Linked DNA regions of Homo sapiens. The protein of the gene in region 2 purifies or fractionates together with the protein of the main gene of each other region. This does not show direct contact. Each region holds a gene or a part of one and is shown on either strand. Other genes may lie near its edges.

What was found. Proteins that work in one complex are often made in the same cells at the same time.
Region 1: the proteins of HIBCH (region 2) and MKRN2 purify together in Homo sapiens (affinity purification with mass spectrometry; 3 studies listed by BioGRID and IntAct, with this or other methods). This does not show direct contact.

Annotation. Positions count from the first base shown.
Region 1 is NC_000003.12:12,560,068-12,567,093, forward strand, and holds part of MKRN2 (E3 ubiquitin-protein ligase makorin-2), read left to right. Parts: intron 1-689; exon of another isoform or gene 690-932; intron 933-7,026. UniProt on the Homo sapiens protein: E3 ubiquitin ligase catalyzing the covalent attachment of ubiquitin moieties onto substrate proteins.
Region 2 is NC_000002.12:190,204,818-190,211,843, forward strand, and holds part of HIBCH (3-hydroxyisobutyryl-CoA hydrolase, mitochondrial isoform 1 precursor), read right to left. Parts: intron 4,097-7,026; coding exon 4,063-4,096; intron 416-4,062; coding exon 300-415; 3' UTR 1-299. UniProt on the Homo sapiens protein: Hydrolyzes 3-hydroxyisobutyryl-CoA (HIBYL-CoA), a saline catabolite. Has high activity toward isobutyryl-CoA. Could be an isobutyryl-CoA dehydrogenase that functions in valine catabolism. Also hydrolyzes 3-hydroxypropanoyl-CoA.

The DNA of each region.
Region 1 (7,026 bases), on a different chromosome or scaffold from region 2:
GTGAAATGAGGATGGTAATGCCTAACCGGCAGGGCTGTTTAAAAATTAAATAATAGCAACAAACCATTTATTTTGTATTAGGATGAGCACTTACATGCATTTTCTCAGTTAAATGTCCCAGTAGTCTATCATAGCAGTCTATGAAGTAAGTGCAGTTATTATAATCACATTACAGATGGGGAAACTGAGGCTCAGTGACTTAAATAACTTGCTTAAGCTCACATAGCAAGCAGTCTGACTTCAGTGTCTTCACCACCACACTGTACTTCATTTCATTCCCGCCTCTAATCAGTACATTTATTGCAAGCCTGCCACAGTGCCTACCATTTGCTTCCTTCCCCCTCAGTGGATCTGCTGTCACAAGGAGTATAGCCGTAAAATTTTAGCCTGTGAAAATATGTAGGAAAATGTAAAAAAAAAAAAAAAAAAAGACACTGAGGATGCAAATTACCTGTATACTTGGAAGTGATTTGCAAAAGCGTTTTGCTAAACAGGCAACATTCAAGGGCCTGTAAGAAACCAGATTGATTGTTTTGCTTAGCACTGCTGCTGCTGGAGCTGCTGGTGGTTCTGTGGCCAGCAGTGAACCTGATATGCTCTGCAGTGTATAATAGCCATACTGTCTGAAACAGTCTTTTGGGTTTACCCAGGGTAACACCCCTTTGGAGTGTCCCCCAGAAAGAACCTACCTGCTCTGAGTCTCCAGCTATGCACTTCACCCACCTAGTCGTCTCTCCCCTCCTCCAGTTCATGTCTCAGTCGTCTCTCTTGGAAGATATGAGGGGCGGTTTGTCCATCAGAAAGGTTGAGCAGTTGGAAATTCATTACAAAGCGCAACATGAAAGAGGCTTGGAGTAAGATCAGTATAACATAGATGGAGAGGAGTGACTATAAGCACATGACAGAGATGCCCCAAAGGACAAGCAGGATGTGCTCTAGGTGGCTTTGTGCTTGTCACTGGGGAGTGGAAATGGTGACATATGCTACAAAAATAGGACTGGGCTGACTTCACCTCTTACATAACTCTCATTTCATACTTTCCTTTCTTGAAGGCAGTGATGGTGGTCTAGAAATTATTTTTGAATCTGTTTAAATCTCAGCTCAGTCACTTACAGAAGTGAAGTGGCTTTTATGAAGTCACCAGCTTATAAATGGCAAAATTAACTAGAAGCTCTGGTTGGCAGTTAAATATTTGTATTTTAGTGGAAGAGATAATTAGTGCAGTTTGGAAGGCAAGTTTTCTGGATAGGACGTATGGAAGGCGGAGGTAGAATTATAAAAGGCATCCTTGCAGGAGACCACTACCTAAAAAAGTCTTTCTTCTTGTCTGCCTTGTTAACAAATAGTATCTGGTAGAGGGCCTGTGGTAGTCTTCCACCCTGGTTCTTTCAGGAAATTTTCTGTTCTAATTGCTTCAAAAGAAACAATACAGTATTGGCTGGTGCAGTGGCTCATTCCTATAATCCCAGCACTTGGGGAGGCTGAGGTAGGAAGATCACTTGAGCCCTGGAGTTTGAGACCAGCCTGGGCAACATAGCAAGATCCTGTCTCTACCCGAGAAAAGGAAAGAAACTATACAGTATTTATTCGATATCACTTTTGTTTAACTGCTTATGTTGCCACTTTGAACCTGTCCTCTTTCAGTATTTATGAGTTTACTAATCCTGATACCTCTTTGTCATTCAGACTTGGCTCTTGGCACTGACTTTTTTTTTTAAATTATTATACCTTCAAAGATTACCATGTCTGAGGACAATTGAAATATTGCAGTCTTGAGTAGCATTTCTCAAAAATAATTCTCAAACTGCTTAGATGTATACTCTACTTTTGTGTTTGGGATCTCCAAGACCACCCCAAATCCAGAGACTGTCTAGAACTAGGACAAGTGGGTCCCAGTATACAGCTGTATTCAAGGCTGAGATTATTACCATATCTAGTAAGGGGTCACAGCCAGATCATGATGGCAGAAGACATGGGGGGTCTGGAGGAGCCTGGGTGCAGGCTTCCTACATCTGTCCCTCCCTGAGAGGGCCACACAGCAATGAAAATGCAGCAACATGTGTCCAGGGAAGCCCATTAGGGATTCAGTGCCCAAGCTGGTCACATAGGCACCCTCTGCCTAGCATGAACCAAAATTCCAGACTCCCAGAAGGCAAGCAGGTTTTCAGCATGAACTACATTGTACATCAGTTTAGACACAGCGAGACACTCTCCATCATTTAGGGAAAATTTTGTATCTGTGTAGAGAACTGTTACTAGCCAAGTTCCCAGATGCCAGGCAAGGGGCAGCCTTGGAAGCAGACCTTCCTAAGGATAGCAGTCTCACATCTGCTGTGTAACTCTCTTCTGTGCATTTATAAAATCGGTATTGTAAATAACAGGAACTCTAAGTTTCTAACAAAAAGTTTCCCAGCTTCTGTTTGTGCTTTTTCTTTTTAAAAAATAAAACTTTAACAGCCTTATGGCAAATTACTGCACAATGTCTGATCTAGTGCAGTGGTCCCCAACCAGTCTATGGCCTTTTAGGAACCAGGCCACACAGCAGGAGGTGAGTAGTGGGCAAGTGAGCAAAGCTTTATCTGTGTTTATAGCCACTCCCCATCACTCACATTACCACCTGAGCTCCACCTCCTGTCAGATCAGCAGCAGCATTAGATTCTAATAGAAGCACTAACCCTATTGTCAGCTGTGCATGTGAGGGATCTACGTTGTGTGCTTCTTATGAGAATCTAATGCCTGATGAACTGTCACTGTCTCCCATGACCCCCAGATGGGACCATCTAGTTGCAGAAAAACAAGCTCAGTGTTCCACTGATTCTACACTATGGTGAGTTGTATACTTATTTCATTATATATTATAATAATAAAGTGCACAATAAATGTAATGTGCTTGAATCATCCTGAAACCATCCCCCATCCCCCCATTCCGTGGAAAAATTGTCTTCCATAAAACTGGTCCCTGGCTCCAAAAAGATTGGGGACTGCTGATCTAATGGTAGGCCACAAGAGGGTGTTTCCTGGGGAAAGCCTAGCTGACTACCTAGCAAAGGCTGTAGGATGGCACCATTGTATAGTCACTTAAGTCATGAGGTCCAGTTCTCATTTTGTAGGCTCAGAAATTTGATTCTGTTGGTGTACATAGAGGTGGCTCATACTAGCCAAACGCATGAGAGACTGACTTATATACTAGAATATCCTTTTATAATTTCCCTGGGAAAAAAATAAACTGTCAGGTAGGTCTGGTCAGCACTTCCTCTGCTTTTGGGGAGAGAAACAGGTGGAGAAGTCAGAGGTTTCTGATTGGGGCGGATGTGCAGCATGTTCACTAGTACCCTTTCTCTGGAGACACCAGCAGTCTGGGCCTCTCGGGCCTCCCTGGCATTCCTTGCATACCATTCCCTCCTGTTGTCTAGTTCTTTTTTTTTTTTTTTTTTTTTTCCTGAGACGGAGTCTCACTCTGTCGCCAGGCTGGAGTGCAGTGGCACGATCTCGGCTCACTGCAGCCTCCGCCTCCTGAGTTCAAGCGATTCTCATGCCTCAGCTTCCCGAGTAGCTGGGATTACAGGCACCTGCCACCATGCCCGGCTACTTTTTGTATTTTTAGTAGAGACGGGGTTTCACCATGTTGGCCAGGCTGGTCTTGAACTCCTGACCTCATGATCCGCCTGCCTCGGCCTCCCAAAGTGCTGGGATTACGGGTGTGAGCCACCACACCCGGCCAGAATCACCTTTCTTTTTAAGCTTGATTGTATGGATAGACCACATCTTGTTTATGCATTCGTCCATTAGCGCACGCTTGAGTTGCTTCCACCTTTTGGCTATTGTGAATAATGCTGGTATGAACACGGGTGTGCAAATGTTTGTTTGAGTCCCTACTTTGAAGTCTTCTATTTTTTTTGAAACAGATTCACTCTGTTGCCCAGGCTGGAGTGCAGTGGCGTGATCTTGGCTCACTGCAACCTCTCCCTCCCAGGTTCAAGTGATTCTCCTGCCTCGGCCCCCAAAGTAGCTGGGATTACAGGCGCCCACCACCACGCCCGGCTAATTTTTGTATTTTTAGTAGAGATGGGGTTTCACCATGTTGATCCGGCTGGTCTCAAATTCCTGACCTCAGGTGATCCACCCACCTCGGCCTCCCACAGTTCTGGGATTACAGGCGTGAGCCACTGGGCCTGGCCTGAATTATTTTGTGTCTATACCCAGAAGTGGAATTGCCGGATCATATGGTAAATATATTTTTAATTTTTTAAGGAACTTCCGTACTGTTTTTCTATAGAAGCTGCACCATTAGCTGTTTTATAATCTACTCTTCTCAGTTAATTGTGTTTAACTTTCCATATTAATAAATTTTCATTTTATACCTAGTCCATACTCACATTTATTTCAAAATATCTTTCAAAATATCTGGTTTCAAAAATGTCTTTTGTATCTGGTTTGTTGAAACCAGATTCTAGTCCAGAGGTAAGTATTGCATCTGGTTATGTCCCTTGTGTTCTGTCTGCTAACCTAGCATTGTCCCTTCCCTTTTTTCTCTTTTTTAACAGCTTTTTCTGAGGTATAACTTATATACCATAAAATTTACCTGTTTGAAGTGTACAGTGCAAAACTTTTTAATGAATTTACAAAGTTGTACAACCATCACCACAGTTAAATTTTAGGACATTTCTATCACCCCCAAAAGATCCCTTGTGCCCATTAACAGTCACCCTCACTTCTCTCCTCCCAACCCTAGGCAACCACTTAATCTACTTTTTGTCTCTGTAGATTTGCCTTTTCTGACATTGCATATAAATGGAATCATGCAACATGTGGTCTTTTGTGTCCAGCTTCTTTCACTCTGCGTAATGTTTTCAAGGTTCACCCATGTTGTAGTGTGTGCCAGTACTTCTTTCCTTTTTATGGCTGGATAAGAGCCCATTGTATGGATAAATCACATTTTCTCTGTCTGTTCATCAGTTGATGGACATTTGGATTGTTTCCACTTTTTGGCTGTTATGCATAGTGCTGCTTTGGACATTCATGTACAAGTATTTGTGTGGACATAGATTTTCATTTTCTTGGGTACATACCTAGGCGTAGAATTGTTGGGTCATATGGTAGATTTATGTTTACATTTTTTAAGAAACTGTCAAACTGTCTTCCAAACTCAGCCTCCTTTAGTTACATGGCACTTATAAAGACAGTAGGCCTAGGTCCCACGTACAGCCTCTTTTGTATTTATTTGGTTGTTTTCTCGAGATGTCTTTCATAGGTTGTCCCCAGTCTCCTGTATTTTCTATGAACTGGATGTTAGATCTGGAGTTTTGTGGATTCAAATTAATTGTTTCTGGCTAGAATACGTCATAGGTTGTTTTATACTTCATTTTGGGTCATATCAGCAGGTACATATTTAAGTTTTTTCCAAGTCGATTTTGGGTCCAGCATCATTTGTTGAAAAGATTCTTTCCCCAACTTACCTTTTTTTTTTTTTTTTTTTTTTTTTTTGGGAGACAGGGTCTCACTCTGTCACCCAGGCTAGAGTGCAGCAGCATGATCTTGGCTTATTGCAACCACTGCCTCCTGGGCTCAATCGATCCTCCTACCTCATCTTCCCAAGTAGCTGGGAGCACAGGTGCACGCTACCGTGCCTGGCTAATTTTTTGTATATTTTTTGGTAGAGACGAGGTTTCACCATGTTGCCCAGTCTCATCTCAAACTCCTGAGCTCAAGCAATCCACTCACCTTGGCCTCCCAAAGTGCTGGGATTACAGGCATGAGCCACTGCATGCGGCCTATGTGTGGTTCTATTTACAGGGTTTTTTGTTTGTTTTTTTGTTTGTTTTGAGACAGGGTCTTGCTTTGTCACCCAGGCTGGAGTACAGTGGTGCAAACAGAGCTCACTGCAGGCTCTCTCCTTCTGGGCTCAAGCAGTCCTCCCACCTCAGGCCCCCAAGTAGCCATCATGCACGGCTGATTTTTGTATTTTTTATACAGATTGGGTTTTGCCATGTTGCCCAGGCTGACCTCAAACTCCTGGGTTCAAGCAGTCCTCACACCTTGGCCTCCTGAAGTGGTGGGATTACGGGCATGAGCCTCTGAGCCCAGACTATTTATGGATCTTTAAAGAATCCCTGCAGCCTCCCTAAACTCAATCTCTGTGATTTGCCTGAGGTTCTACTCCCAGTACCAAGACCTAGAATATGCCTCCAGGTAGGAAGTCAGACTAAATGTGGGGCTTACTTCCTGTGTTTCCCTTCTCTTAAGGACCAGTCCTTTTTTCTATTGTCTGAAAGCAGTTGTTTCACATATTTTGTTTCATTTTTCAGTTGGGTTTGTTTTGTTTTGTTTTGTTTTTTTACAGTGAGAAGCCAAGATCCATGCTCCTTGGTAGTCAGAAGCAAGTTTGTTTCTCTCTCTCTCTCTCTCAGATGGTTTCTATTCTGTGTCTTCAAGTATTCTGATATTTTCCTTTGTAGTATCCCATCTACTAAACTCATCTAATGTAATTCTCATTTCAGACATTGTATTTTTCACTTCTAGAAGTTTCATTTGTTTTTTGTTTTGTTTTGTTTTGAGGTGGAGTTTCGCTCTTATTGCCCAGGCTGGAGTGCAATGGCGCGATCTTGGCTCACTGCAACCTCCGCCTCCAGGGTTCAGGTGATTCTCCTGCCTCAGCCTCCCAAGTAGCTGGGATTACAGGCACCTGCCACCACACCTGGCTAATTTTTGTATTTTTAATAGAGATGGTGTTTCACCATGTTGACCAGGCTGGTTTCGAACTCCTGACCTCTGGTCATCCACCCACCTCAGTCTCCCAAAGCGCTGGGATTATAGGCGTGAGCCACCACACCTAGTATTTGGTCTTATTTAAATCATCCATTTCTCTCCACATTATGTTTATGTTTTTCTTTAAATCTTTCAGCATATTGAGCATATGTATAATAGCTGTTCTTAAGGTCTTATTTTGCTGATTCCATCATCTCTGTAATTCCTGTTCTTTATTTTTCTCCTGGTTATAGGTCACATTATTTTCTGCTTTTTGGCATA
Region 2 (7,026 bases):
CAGTAAATAATTAGGCTTTGTAGGCTTTACCATCTCTATTGCAACTACTCATTTCAAAGCAGCCACAGATAATATATAAACAGATGAGTATAGCTAGTTCCAATAAAGCTTTATTTGTGAATTCTGATAATTTTCACGTCATGAATTATTAGTCTTTGATTTCTTTTCCCAACCATTTAAAAATGCGGAAACCATTCTTAGCTTACAGGGTATATAAAAACAGGCAGCAGGCTGGATTTGGCCCACATGCTGTAGATTGCCAACCCATGCTACAAAATATACCTTAAAAGCCTGTCACCTCAAAATTTCAAATCACTGCTTCCCAAAGACTTAAAGTGATTATTCAAATCTTCCTCAGTAACTTCTTTTAGATCAGCTGGTTTCCATTTTGGACTCTGGTCTTTATCAATTAAAACTGTCAAGAGAAGATACAAATGTTAATACCATTATTTTTGTCTAATATTGCTAGATTTTACTTACTGAATTGACAGAAATTCTTATACTAGGCACATTTTTCTATCATACTTTTTTCCTGCAAAATTTTTATATGTATTCTATTTTTCTTTTAAATTAAATCTCCAGGGATGGACAGCAATATACTTTTGATGACTGGGGTGGATATTTTCTAACTTCCTAAGCCTCATGTCTTAGCTTTAATAAAGCCTACTGAATTAATCCAGTGGTTTAAACATTAGAATTCTTTTTTTCTTCTTGAAATAAAATTGCCAGTGAAACCTCCACATTACAAAACAGGTAAAACCAGTGGTTTAAAGTAAAGGCAGGGGAGGGCAGAGGGACCAGATGTGCCTTCTAACCTCCTCCACATTGAATTTTGGGAGGAAATTAATTGCTTAAGGTAGAGAAAAGGGGACTTCATGCATAATTAAATGTGGATACTGTTGTTCTGCTGAATCCTCCAGTTCAGACAGCTCTGGATTTAAAAAAATCAGGTTATCATGAAACCGTCTAGTTCTCCTATTTCAGTGTAGTCATCACTCATCATAGCCACATAGTATCCCCACAGGATTATGAGGCAATCTGTAACTTCTCCGAAAAAAAAGGGGGAGGAATGTCCAGTATACTGTAGTTACACACACGTTATCATTTGGGAGACTGGGTGGAAGGTATGCAAGATCTCTATATTATTTCTTACAACCGCATGAATCTACAATGATCTCCAAATTTTAATGTTATGGTTGTGGCAGCAAATTTCAACCATGCTTAAAATGCACATAATTCTTGTGAAGAATGGAAATATTTAAATGTGCAAACTATAGTGAACTAGAAAAACCTAATTTAGCATTTAAAGGCTAAAATAGTTAAAGAAGCAGTATGGGAACCAAGGAAGAAGACTGCCTTGGTAGGTGGAGGGAAGCTTTTACATACAATTAAATGCAGATACGGGAGGTTTGTTTTTAAGATTTAACTGCCTACTATGAGATTCTGGTATCAGATCAGTGGCGATATTAAATACTGATGTTCTGATCCCTACTATTTGAAAGTTTTATATTCCGTGGACAGTGTAAACAAAGAACAACCCCGGCACATTTTTTCCACAAGAATCTCTCTCACTCTAAGTCTTCTGGTCAATACTACCTGTCTCCTTGAGATCCCACTGAAGGACAAGAGCAAAGAGACTATTAATCAAATTTGTTATTTTATTTCAAGCTAACAATTTTTTTACTAGAATACATACAAGTTCGTGCCATGTAGGCAGCTCAGGTTTTGCAAGTCTCCTGAGATAGCCACTACATGGAGTTTGAGTGGGTATCCAGCTCCACTAAGATGGTCTTTTTTTCTTCTTCTATAACCACAAAGTAGTAATTTGTTCTAGATGTTAACAGTAAGAATTTTTAACAACTGTTAAATTTGCTAACTTACTTTAACTTGCTAATATGTTTTTATTATTAGCAAACTGCAGCAAACATTTGACTATGTAAAGAACACAACAGTTTTCAATCTCAGAACAGACGCTGCTTTCTGAAAGAGGCGGCAATATACTTTCTCTTCATTAAAAAGTAGCATAGGCCAGGCGCGGTGGCTCAGGCCTATAATCCCAGCACTTTGGGAGGCTGAGGTAGGCGGATTACGAGGTCAGGAGATCGAGACCATCCTGGCTAACACTGTGAAACCCCGTCTCTACTAAAAATACAAAAAAATTAGGCGTGGTGGCAGGCGCTTTTAGTCCCAGCTACTCGGGAGGCTGAGGCAGGAGAATGGTGTGAACCCGGGAGGCGGAGTTTGCAGTGAGCCGAGATTTTGCCACTGCTCTCCAGCCTGGGTGACAGAGTGAGACTCCATCTCAAAAAACAAAACAAAACAAAAAAAAGTCGTATAATAAGCACTTCCTTTATGAATCAGAACTTTGATGCTGATTGGTTTCAACATTTTTTCCTCAAAATAACAGTATTTATCTAAAAACAGTATCTTTCTTTTTAAAGAAGGGCTATTATAACATATAATGAATACTTTAACAATATAACCCTGTATGCTTACAGGTCCTCTAAAATCAGAGTTCTAGGCTGTAATCCACATGCAGCAAGAATTTGCAGAGAATTTGTGAGGAAAATGCCTATGTTACTTAGTTTCTACAAGACACACTGCCATCTCCTCTGATCAGCTCCATGTGCTGAATACTAAAAAGATTTCAATCAAGTCCTTATTTCTGATATTGTATCATGTCAGAAATGAAGAGAACTCTATGAAGAGTGATTGTTTATCAAAGCTTAAGAGCTGAGAGAACATAACATAACCTTTTATTCAGATAAAAAAGTATATCCAGGCTGGGCACGGTGGCTCATGCCTGTAATCACAGCACTTTGGGAGTCCAAGGCAGCCAGATCACATAATATCAGGAGTTCAAGACCAGCCTGGCCAACATGGTGAAACCCCGTTTCTACTAAAAATACAAAAATCAGCTAGGCGTGGTGGCATGGGCTGGTAGTCCCAGCTACTCAGGAGGCTGAGGTAGGCAAATCACTTGAACCTGGGAGGTGGAGGTTGCAGTAAGCCGAAAGTGCACCACTGCACTCCAGCCTGGGTGACAGTGTGAGACCCTGTCTCCAAAAAAAATAAAATAAAATAAAAAAAACAAAGGATATCCAGAGTCTGCACTATAGTAAAATAATTAATAAAAACAGGAACATTAGATATGCAAAATACATGCAGAGGGAACAACTCATTTTATACAACATAAATAACAGCTTTTTATAAGGATAAGAATTATGCATAAAAAGGAATTGTTGCAAGTATGCTAGAAAAAACAGTCAAGCACGTCAAGCACTTCACTTGCTTTTTCTAAATATGCTGACATTGGAGATTATAAGCAAAATGGAAAGTATTAATAAGACAATCTGCAGATGTTACTAATGACATCATATGGTCTTTTTCCCCAGCAATGTTTAACTGCTGAGGTACAGGCAAGAAGGTGGAAAGTAGGGTTAGACCACTGGTCAATTTTGCCAGGCCAGCACGAAAGAGGGAGAAAGGGTAGGGGATTTGAGGGCTTTTTGTAAGGTAATAAATGCATGTTTCAAAGGCCACAGCAGCAGGATGGCAGCAGGATGAGTTTACAAGCTCAATGCTGCACTTATCAGATGCAGTCCATGATTGTAGGGGCAGGATTACCTTATATATAAATTAGGAAACAGTGGCCAAGTTATGTGAATTTTTAAAACAATTATCAGTTTCAAAGACTGATCTTCCTTTTCATATCCCAGATGGTAACATATTCTTTAAAAACATACACAACTTTGCAATCTTAATAAAAGTTTAATTTTCACTACTAAAACAACTATAGGTTGAGTATTCTTTATCTGGAATGCTTGGGATCAGAAGTGTTTCAGGTTTGATTTTTTTTTTTTTTTTCAGATTTTGGAATATTTGCATTATACTTATGGTCCAATGAACATTTGAGTGTCATGTTGGTGCTCAAATAGTTTCAGATTTTGGTACATTTTGGATTTTAGGATTTGGGATGCATAATCTGTATCTTCTTTAATTAACAGCATATGCTCACAAATCCCATTTCCCCAAAATGGTAAGTTCCCATTTGCCACTTACCAGCTCTAACGCCTTCATGAAAGTCATGACCTCTCTGAAAGAAAATTGAGATTAAATGGGGATAATTTCTGGGTGTCCTTATTCTGGGTTATTTTCTCTCTCCTCTATTCACTTCAGCCTTCCACTCCCATGGCCACAACCTGAACCATGACATTCAGAGACTGAACCACCTCTGATAGCCCACTCTCTGATCACCACCTCCTAAATCTTATTTGCTCAAGTATCTCCACTGCTACAAATCATTGATCTTACTGAGGTCCACAGATCCTATGACTTTCTCCCCATCTGTGCTGGCTTCACTTTGCTCTTCATCCAGCCCAATTTCACCAGTCCTTTAATATGGTCACTTTCCTGTCAAAATGTCATCATCTCCCTCAAACCTTTTTTCCTTTTTTACAATCCTAGCAAAATCCTGGCACCAACTAAACCCTATCACGTACCCCTGCCTGCACTTCAGCAGCTAAGTCTTGCTGCAGAAAATCATACAACTGTGACTGGTTTCATTTAAAATTCATGATCAAAAATCTCAAACAGGCACAGAAAACTGCCAAACAATCCAAGATCTCTTCCCAACTCCCCAAGATAATGATTTTAAGTGTTTTCTGCCTTCTCAACCTCTACCCGTAGAGCACACTCTTATTATAGTCTCAGCCAGTTACTTAACCTCTGACTTCTTTAAAAATACGAGAAGCTCTTAGATATGAAGTCTTGTCTTCTCACCACTAAAACACCTGCAGGCAACTGTGGCCATCTGCACCTGCCTTCTCTTTCAATGCCGTGGAGGAAAGGACCATCCCTTTTTCAAAGACCAGTCCTCCCTTGCATTCCAATTCACATCCCCTCTTGCCTTCTCAAGGATGGACTTTGCTTGATGTGGTCATTCACTTTTATTTTCCTAGAATCATCGATGTAGGCAATATAGCTGAGTTCAAATGTCTAGGTTCACATCCTGATAGCTACATATTAACTATGTGACCTCGGACTAGTAATTTCTCCAACCCTAGTTTCTTTACATGAAAAGGTAATTTATATATCCATCCTAGGATTATTTTAATCCACATCCAAGCACAGTGTCCGACACTAAGTGTTCAGTAAATATTAACTACCATTAGTATCATCAACATAATCTTGTTTCTCTATTGGATCATTCCCAATCATTTTTAAACATGTTCTAGTACCTTCCATCTTACAAAATAAAAAAGGAACTTCATTTGATTCCACAGTCCCAGCTTCTATCCTATTTCACTTTCAAGAGTATTCATCTACACATATTCTCTCCACTTCTTCACATCCCATTTTTCCTCTCCAACTTACTACACTCTAACTTCTGCCCCCACTCCTCTAAAATGGCTTGCCAAAACCACCCATGACATCGGCATCGCCAAGGTCAAATGACACTTCTAACCTCGTCTACACTTTGACAGCGTTCAACACTGTCCATTACACCCTCCTCCCCGAAACATTCCTCACTTTCTTTTGTGACACTACACTCTCCTGGTCCTCCTACCTCTCCATCCTTTTTTTCCTTCCTACTGCTCTTTCTCTACCACACCTCAAAATGTTAGAGTTCCTTAGGGCTCAGGTCTGGACTCTCATTTTCTTTATAATATGATCTTACCTATTCAGTGCTCAACATAGCAGCCTGAGTGATCAATTCTTTAAAGTATAAGATCATGGCATTCCTCTCCTCATAATCACCTAGTGGCTTCCCATTTTACTCAGCCAAAGTCCTTAGAGAGACCTTCAAGGCTCTGTATGCTCTGCACAGCCTTTCTCTACACTGTTTCCTCTGACCTCATCTCTCACTCACCACAACCTCTGCCCCCCATCCGCTTCCACACGGCCTCTTTGTGGTCCCTAGCACAGGCAGTCATGCTCCAGCCTCACAGCTTTGTTCTTGCAGTTCCCACTGCCTGGGATGCTCTTCCTCTAGATAATGGCATGGGCTCACTTCCTTACTTCTTTCAGGAATTCACTCAAAGAACATCTCAGTGAGGCCTTCTCTGGTCATCCCATCTACAATTCATCCCCCTGTTACTCTATATCACATATCCTGCTTCCTTTTTCTTGTTAATATTTATAATCATATAATATATATTTTATGTATTAATCTTGTTTACAGTCTATTTCCCCATTATAAAGTAAGTTCCATGAGGGCAGGTGTTATCCTACTCCCTACTCCCCAAGATAATGATTTAAACTGTTTTCTGCCTTTTCAACCTCAACCCCTGGAGCACACCTATGTACCTGGAACCTATGTACCTGGGTACCTCTAACAGTGTCTACGACATAGTAAGCACTCTTGTTTAGTAAATAACGAATCCCCAAGGTTTTCTTAATTGCTGTTGGTGTCTTTCAGATTTAAATCTCCAACTCATTCCTCTAATCTCTAACTCCTAAATGCATTCCTTCCCTCACATCCAGCAAGTCCTATCTATTCTATCTCCTACATGTGTCTCAAATCCATTTACTTCTCTCAATTGCCACCATGCTTGTCTCAAAACTACTATTTCACACCTGGATCACTGCAGGAAATCTATATCTGGTCTCTAAACCGTTCTTGAACCTCTCCAACCCTATCTCCACACAGCAGCAACAATTTCCTTCTTAAAGCAAATTGAACCGAATGAAATGAAAAATCAAATCACCTCCTGCTTAAGCCCAAGAGTCTTCTCAACATACTCCTTTCTCATCCTTTAGGTCACAAATGAAGTGACATCACAAAGATGTCTTCCCTGATCTACTTAAGGAGGTTTCCCATTGCCCCCCAACTCCCTCCTGTCCCTGCATAATCTCTTCTATCACCAACCCTGTATGTTTTCCTTTAGAGTACTTATCACAATTTATAATTATTTTACTTATTTTGTTTACTTGTTCTTTGTAGTCTCAGTAGACTAAACCCATGAAAATAAAGGACTGTGTCTTCTTATTCAACAATATAAGGCTAACACTGAGCACAGTGCC